2 linked regions of the Homo sapiens genome follow. The protein of the gene in region 1 purifies or fractionates together with the protein of each later gene. This does not show direct contact. Each region holds a gene or a part of one and is shown on either strand. Other genes may lie near its edges. The genes, in order: FADS2 and PANK3.

Evidence for each region.
Region 2: the proteins of FADS2 (region 1) and PANK3 purify together in Homo sapiens (affinity purification with mass spectrometry; one large-scale study listed by BioGRID and IntAct). This does not show direct contact.

What each region holds. Positions count from the first base shown.
Region 1 is NC_000011.10:61,826,634-61,831,244, forward strand, and holds the start of FADS2 (acyl-CoA 6-desaturase), read left to right. Parts: upstream 1-1,666; 5' UTR 1,667-1,757; coding exon 1,758-1,964; intron 1,965-4,611. UniProt on the Homo sapiens protein: Involved in the biosynthesis of highly unsaturated fatty acids (HUFA) from the essential polyunsaturated fatty acids (PUFA) linoleic acid (LA) (18:2n-6) and alpha-linolenic acid (ALA) (18:3n-3) precursors, acting as a fatty acyl-coenzyme A (CoA) desaturase that introduces a cis double bond at carbon 6 of the fatty acyl chain.
Region 2 is NC_000005.10:168,555,216-168,559,026, reverse strand, and holds part of PANK3 (pantothenate kinase 3), read left to right. Parts: intron 1-1,405; coding exon 1,406-1,456; 3' UTR 1,457-3,811. UniProt on the Homo sapiens protein: Catalyzes the phosphorylation of pantothenate to generate 4'-phosphopantothenate in the first and rate-determining step of coenzyme A (CoA) synthesis.

The sequences.
Region 1 (4,611 bases):
TGGGATGTCTGCTCACACTCAAAGACAGAGAGGCCTTACTGTCTTTATGTCTGCAGTCTGTGGAGTGAATGAAGGATGCTCAGGGCTGACACCAGCATGAAATGTGATGGGAGAGGTTGGGGACTGTGTGAATGTGAGGAAAGGGAGCCCATCTGCCCCCCCAAGTACAACCCCACCAGTTGGGCAGAGTGATCCCCCCACCACCCCTGCATTGCTGTGAAATTTAGATTGGGCAGGGCCCGTTTGACCATCTCTCTCAATCTCAGGCTCTCCATTTTCAAGTGAGATGTAATAATATGCGTCCTGTTTACCTCTCAGCCTGTGATGAGAATCTAATGATTAGGGTGTGCTAGCACACAGGCACCTGTAAATCCCATTGAAATCTGAGGGCCCTATAACTCCTCTAGTGATTCCCAAGCCTCGTGCACCCCACCCTCTCTGTTCATCCTTACTTCCCACGTGTCCCGTTAGCCCTCCGGATGCAGTCAGGCCCATTTCCCCCAGGACGCCCGGCACTAAGCCGCCCCATCCAGCTGGGGTCTGAGGGGCCTGTCTCTTGCCCCACGCCTAAAAGACCTAACCCTCCTCCTATCCCTTCGATACGGCAGTCTTTATTTGCTGGAGTCTGCACAACATCACTGCCCAATGATGTGTCTGCTTCCACGATTCCCAAAGAGACTGAGCTTACTGAGACCAGGGCAAGGACCGCGCCAGTTCCTCATCGCCCCCTTCCTCTGCCTTCCCCTCCCTTCCCCCTCACCGCAGCCATGGCGCCCAGACCAAGAAAGCAGAGCAGAGGTTCCGCAATTCTTTTCTAAGATTGTCTGACTAGAGGGTTCAAAGCCCTCTAATCCAAGGCCGGCTTGTGTCTCTAGGGAGGTTGCAGAAAGGCGCCAGAATGTGGATGGCGCGGACAATGTGGGATACTGGAGTCTCGACTGCCGCGCGCCAAGGAAGGGCGTCACCTAGCCAAGCCGGCCCTGGAGTTGAGTGCCCCGCAGCCCGCCGGTCCACCCGCCCGGCCGCTTGCTGGCACCCTGGTGGCCGCGCCGGCTTTGTGTCGGCATCAGGTGCAAACCCCCAGAGCGCCGGGCGTGCGCGCACGCGCCCCGGAGCGCGCGGAGCCCATTCGTTGCCCCCACCGGGATCTCCTCTAGGATCTCCTCCGGCGCCCGGGGCCGGAGAGTGGGGGAGGGAGGAGGTCGGACACGTAGCCTGCCTCGCAGCAGGGCTCGACTCCACGCGGGAGGGCGGGGGAGCCGGGGACCCGCCGCTCCAGCCCGCTGGCCTTCGAAAGATCCTCCTGGGCCAATGGCAGGCGGGGCGACGCGACCGGATTGGTGCAGGCGCTCTGCTGATCGCTGTGGAAACTCGGGCGGCGGGGAACGCGGGAGGATGTGGAACCCGAGGCGGGGGGAGCCGGAGGGGCGGGCAGAGGAGGTGTCGAGGCCCTGAGCTCCCGGGGAGTTTTTACTGGAGGCAAAAGTCCATAGCGGGAGGGCTGAGGGAGGGGCGGAGGAAGGGGACCGCTTGGGGGCACTGGGAAGCCAGGGATCCTCCGCCAGGAAGGCAGGGACACTCCCGAGCGCAGGCGAGAAGGCTGGGGGAGGGGGCGCGGTGGGAGGAGTAGGAGAAGACAAAAGCCGAAAGCGAAGAGGGCCCGGGCTGCACACACCGGCTGGGAGGCAGCCGTCTGTGCAGCGAGCAGCCGGCGCGGGGAGGCCGCAGTGCACGGGGCGTCACAGTCGGCAGGCAGCATGGGGAAGGGAGGGAACCAGGGCGAGGGGGCCGCCGAGCGCGAGGTGTCGGTGCCCACCTTCAGCTGGGAGGAGATTCAGAAGCATAACCTGCGCACCGACAGGTGGCTGGTCATTGACCGCAAGGTTTACAACATCACCAAATGGTCCATCCAGCACCCGGGGGGCCAGCGGGTCATCGGGCACTACGCTGGAGAAGATGCAACGGTAAGGGTCTGGGGGCGCCCCAGCCACCCTTCTCTGCTGCAGGCGGAGTCAGGATCCCTGGCTCCCCGTGGGCCAAACAGACCTCCGGCGCTGAATGGAGCTTGGGACGTCCTGTAGGGAAGGAAAGTGCATCTATTGCACTCGTACCCCCTCCCCAATCCTCCTCCTCCTCTGGGCCGACTGGGGTGGAGACCGGATCTGGGACCCGGGGAGGCGGCGCTGCGGTGAAAGTCCCAGCGGTGGAGAACAGGGCAAGCATCTACCGCGCGCGCCGGGACCCACGCGTCCTCCCCTTCCTCGGGGTTTGTCTGGAGGCAGGGACTCCCCAAGAGGGGCGCTCGGGCCAGACGGCTTTGGCGCCCCCAGCGGGGAAGATGGCCGCCCCTGCGCGCCGCTGAAAGGAGCGGGAGCGCAGGCAGCCAGGTGTGGGACTCCGCGCTTGTCCCGCACTCTCCATCCAGACTGGGTGGCGAGAAGGAAAGCTCGTCCCCGGCCGGAGATCGCTCCTGCTGGGACTCTTGTCTAAGAAGTTCCTCAATGGCCACCTGGGAAAAACCGCCCAGCAGCTCGGGTTCCCACGCTCCAGGGATTATCTAGACTCACCCCAAGCTCGAGCCGGCCTTCTTGGGGACCGGCGTCCGGGATTGGTGGAAGGAGAACGGCCTGGGGTTTGCAAAGCCCAGGTCGAGTGAGGCCTTGAGCCGGTGGATTTAGCAGCACTAGACTGGCTTGGCAACAGGTCCGTCTGCACTCGAGGTTACTCTCGGGCGTTCAACTCAATGGCTCTCTCTTTTTAAATCCTGCCAAGAACACCCTTCCCTCATCTTGCACTCCTAAAGGTTGTGGGCCTCTCTGGAGCCATTGCTGCCCACCTTACCCCCACCAAATGCGTGGCTCAGTGATTACCCCGCACCAGCTACCCGCACCGGGGACCCCAGTCTGAAATCCTGGCATTTATTTAAGGATGCAGCTGGTATCCCATGGATTCGAATGGGCCAGAAGGAAAAGAACAGAGGCAAGGAGGGAAGAAAGGGCGGCTTTTGGTGGTGGTAGTGAATTGGATGCAGAGAAAAAAGGTCTGATGGGATACAGAAATTGGGGAAAGTGAATAGGAGAGAGGCAGAAAGGAGGGATGAACTTGACGTAGATCATTCCACCTGGAGGTCTAGGATGCCCAACTGTTGGTGGGCTTTTGCTCTCTAAGCTGTGTAGGCCCGACCCTTAACTTCCCCACCTCTTGCATCTCATGGAGACAGGCCTAGGGGAAGGCCAGACCAGGCCACCATAACCCAAGCTGGACAATGGACAGGTGGTGTGGGCCAGCAGGGCCAGGGCTTATCTAAGATTGGGAAGGTCAGCGATACTGAAATTCCCTACAGCTTTCAGTCCCATCCTGTTTTACTTGCTTGTGGACATTGCTTAAGCCCAGTGGGTTTGTGATGCTATTTAGAACTTAGGTGGGTATGTTTCACATACCTTCAGTGCTATCTCACCTGGACCTTTACGCGGCCCAGTGAGGAGGTTGGGTTAATGTAACTCCTAAGTAAAGGACCTTCTGGATCCTGGCTGGGATCTTTCCACTATATGTTGCTGGACTTGGGCTGGTCTGTTTCTGATTTCATAGGTAAATTGTAGAAGGTTCCTGTCCTGTCCAGGCCCTCACCAAAAAGTTTCCAGAAGGAAAAGTCAAATACGATGAATTTGGTCTGATTATTCCACATTGTTAAACATATTTTCTTATGTGAACGCTTAGTCTGGCAATTGCCTTGACCTTTCTGGTTTAATTACCATATCAGATTGATTTATTTCTTCCTTGTTCTGGATGTTCTCAGTGCTTACCTGACCTTAACACTGAGTTCCCTCCAAAAATCAGTGCTCACATCTCTCCTAACAGAGGACTAGAATGACCTACTCTTCCCTGACCTTTTCTCTGTCTCATAAAAATGTAATAGTCTCGTCATTTCTGGTCCTGCTCCAGCGCTTTCTGTATAACTTTCATGGACTATAAATCTGGTATCTTGGATGTTGGTTGCTTTGTTACTTTCATAAGCTAGGGTGGGAGCCAACCGGGGCTGCAAACAGATCTAGAATTGAAGAAAGATGTCATTACTGGGCTCATCCACTAAGTGTTGTCACTTGACTGAGCCCCATCTCCTCATCTATAAGGTACACCTGTACCTGTTTCAATGAGACTGATTTGTGGCAAAGCACCCAGCAACTGTAACCACTAGATGAATGCAATGGGGTGTTATCAGGCAAACGGGAATAAGAACAAGTATTATGAAACAGCTAGAATGGAAAGTATGCAAAGAGGAATTTGAAGAAAAAATTTAAATCTATGCTAGCTTTATTTGGTGTAGCAACACGTAAAAGCAATCCCTGTCCCCAGAGCTTCCTGTCTTCTAAAATAAGACTTTTGGGGCATGAAATACACGAACTGGGGATACAGATTTGAATGATGGTGATGATGGAGTGAGCAGCTGGGTTCTCTTTGTTTTGTTTTGTTTTTTTAAACTGTCCAGGACCAGGTTGGAAAAAGGCCTTGAGCAGCGTGGGGTGGGTGGGGCATGTGGAAAGGGGACCTAAAGAGAGAAGCAGGAACAGGCTACTGAAATCCAGAGACCCTTGCCTAGGCTGTTGAGCAAGT
Region 2 (3,811 bases), on another chromosome or scaffold:
GTAGGAAAATGTTTTTTGTGAATTTTAATAGCATGTTTTTTAAGAGACAGGGTCTTGCTCTGTCACTCAGGCTTGAGTTTAGTGGCACAATGATGGCTTACTGCAGCCTCTTCCTCCTGGGCTCATCAATCCTCCCACCTCAGCCTCCCAAGTAGCTGGGACCACAGGTATGCACCACTGTGCCCAGAAAATTTATTTTTATTAATATTTTTTGTGGAGACAGGATCACTCTTTGTTGCCCAGGCTAGTCTGGAACTCCTGGCCTCAAGCAATCCTTTATAGGTGTGAGCCACCATGCCCAGCCTTAAGTAGTAGAATATTGGTTCCTTCGCTTCAGTTTCAGTTGTGGGGAAGAGAATTACAATAACCTGTTAGGCACCCCCAGATTTTTTTGTATTCATTTACTACATGCAGTTAAGTTCTGATCTGAGCAATTATCAGTCCACATAATGTTTTGGATTAACTTAACTTGAATCATTTTGTGATCAAAGTCAAATGGCTGTATCATTACAAATTAGTAACAGAGATTCAAATTATTCTGCTCTTAAAAGCTTCCATGTCTTGGCCGGGTGCGGTGGCTCATGCCTGTAATCCCAGCACTTTGGGAGGCCAAGGCGGACGGATCACGAGGTCAGGAGATCAAGACCATCCTGGCTAACAACGGTGAAACCCCGTCTCTACTAAAAATACAAAAAAAAATTAGCCGGGCGAGGTGGCGGGCGCCTGTAATCCCAGCGACTCGGGAGGCTGAGGCAGGAGAATGGTGTGAACCCCAGGGGGCGGAGCCTGCAGTGAGTCGAGATGGCGCCACTGCACTCCAGCCACTCCAGCCTGGGTGATAGCGAGACTGTCTAAAAAAAAAAAAAAAAAAAAGCTTCCATGTCTCATTGTCACTGCTCACACAATACAAATCAGAATGGTGTGCCCTTGTGCAATTCCACATGGCATGCAGTGAGAGTGTCAGGCACAGCCACAGGAAGTTAGTTTGTTTTATTAAGTAAAGGGGAGAGGGTGCAGAATTGCTGTTACAGTCCTGGAAGCTTTAGTGTCTAAAGGCCACACTTTTAGAATACGTATTTCAGTGTGAGCCTATAGTCCCAGCTATTCAAGAGGCTGAGATGGGAGGACCATGTGAGCCCAGGAATTCAAGGCCAGCCTGGGCAAAATAGTGAGACCATGTCTCTAAAAATAATAATAATAAATAAAAATACATATTTCAAAGGTGTGTAGACATCAAGAATACAGATTCAGAAAATTTTTTATAATAGCTAACAACGCAGAAATTGGTAGGTTTCCAAATATTATTAAACAAATAGATTGTGCATAGTTGTGTGTTCTCAAGTGGTTAATATTATATGCTAACTTAAAAGCTGTACTACATAACAGTTATTTTTAAATTACACAGGGTTACTTTGGAGCAGTTGGTGCACTTCTTGGGCTGCCAAATTTCAGCTAAAGCATCAGGTCTCTCTCTCTGCTAATAAATGTCATCCAAGAGGAACTAAAACCAGAGGCATTATTACTGCATTGTTTGTCACTGGGAACCAAAGGATAAAAGAGTAGCATAAGCTGCTGAATGTTGCCATATTAAAGGAGAGAACTTGGTAACGTGAAGTATTTCTCATTGAAATGCTTTCCCTTTTGTATATAGCCAGTGTTAAATCCTTAAATGCAATACAGCCTCTGATTATTGAGCTTCCTCTTAAAAAGATTTTTTTATTTTATGTAGCCAACATTGCAGTACTGTATGCTCAAACACAAATCTTAAAGTATCGGAACTGTTTAGCTTATGAAAATAATCGACTCTGAATATTTGTTACAAGTCTGTTTTATGTGTTTTGATTACTAGTGAGCAGAAAATAACATACCCTGTATTCAAAATTACTGAAATGGCAATCAAAGATGATCATTTTTATGTGATTTTAGAAATGTTAAGGCAATACTACTAATTATTGTAGGTTTTTTTAACGTATCACCCAAAGCATGTATGTGATCTTTCCCCATTAGTATCTTTTTCTCAAATGCCATAATTAACTGAAATACTATTATTAAATTTTCATGAGAATTCTAAAATGAATCCTGGGAAATGCACGTTTGGTGATGTTGCACTTTCTGTATTTTACAGGAATTAGTCAATACATGTTGAAATGTTTAACATTTTAAGATTGGAGGCTTAATTACTGGGAGTCTGTCTAATGAAGTCCTGGGACTATTGTAATGGAATATGATTTGAGTTCACTGTGCTCTTTTTGTTTGTTTGTTTTGGTCATATATACATTCAGAACTTTTATTTTAAAACAACCACAATAACATTAATAATAGAAAATTCATCTGTAAATATTCACAGTCTAGTCACTGAAAAATGGGAAAACCTCTACCATGCCTTATTATTACCCTTTGCTGTTTGAGGAGCCAGAAATAGAGGTGCAGTTAGAGGACGGTCACTTTTTCCAACAAAACCCACTCCATAGCCATGTGGATTTTTATCCAAAGGCTCAACAACCAGAGGGAATGGTGAGACCTGATAACTAAAATACTGTTATTGGCAAGGGTTTGAAATGTGTAAGAACCTAGGAGGGAAAGGAAGATTGAGCAACATAGGAAAAGGGGAAGAGAGGCTGAGTGTCACCAAGGTCCAAACTCCATTTATAAAAATACTGCAAAACCAGGAGTTGATGGTAGAAATGCATATGATCCATGGCAGGAGTAAATCTCTCCACCTCCTCTAACTCTCTGAAAACTCTAGAGTTGGAGCAAGTCTTCCATTTGCTTCTTATCCCCTTAAAAGAATGCCTTCCACTTCCCAACAGCCCCCATCAAGGGACCCCAAGAGGCCACCATGCTCTTATCTCGCACTTTCTTTCCTATTCCCCTTGCCTGAATCTGGAGTGGGGTTGAGCCCTCTGCCTTCAACCTTAAGATTTAGGAAGTTCTTTCCCCAACTGTCTAACTTGGAAAGGTAGATGAGTCTGAATTTTGAAGTAACGAATGCAAATTCCACTCAGCAGAGGCAATGTTATTTATGTACATAGGGATAGTGGAATGAGTTTTAATAGATTCTGTCCAAAAGGGGTTTGTTCCTCTTATTTCCTCTATGTAGGAAGTTGTGTCTTAGGCAACTTTATCAGTATCAATGGAAAAATGATAGGCACTACAATGAAATGGCAGGATGCCAATATGAGATATTTCAGGAATAATAAGAAATACAGTTTGTTTGTATAAAATAAACTATCTCAAGAAAGTTTTCAACGACAGTGATAGTGTTCATTTGTAAGAGAGAGTTCTAGAACTTCGATGTCCAGTGCAGTAGCCACTACCCATATGTAGCTGTTGAGCATTTGAAATATGGTTAGTCCAAATTGAGATGTGCTCTAAAGGACAATAAAAGGTTAAATATCTCCTAATTTTTTGTATTGATTACATGTTGAAATGTTAACATTGGAAATATTGGGTTAAAGAAAAATACACAATTAAAATGAATCTTGGCCAGGCGCAGTGGCTCACGCCTCTAATCCCAGCACTTTGAGAGGCCAGGGTGGGCAGGTCACCTGAGGTCAGGAGTTCGAGACCAGCCTGGCCAGTGTGGCAAAACCCTGCCTACTAAAAATACAAAAATTAGCCAGGCATGGTGGTGCGCACCTGTAGTCCCAGCTACTTGGGAGGCTGAGGCAGGAGAATTGCTTGAACCCAGGAGGAGGAGGCTGCAGTGAGCTGAGATTGTGCCACTGCACTCCAGCCTGGGCGACAGAGTGAGACTCTGTCTCAAAAAAAAGAATCATCTGTTTCCAATTATTTTTAAATGTGCTTACTA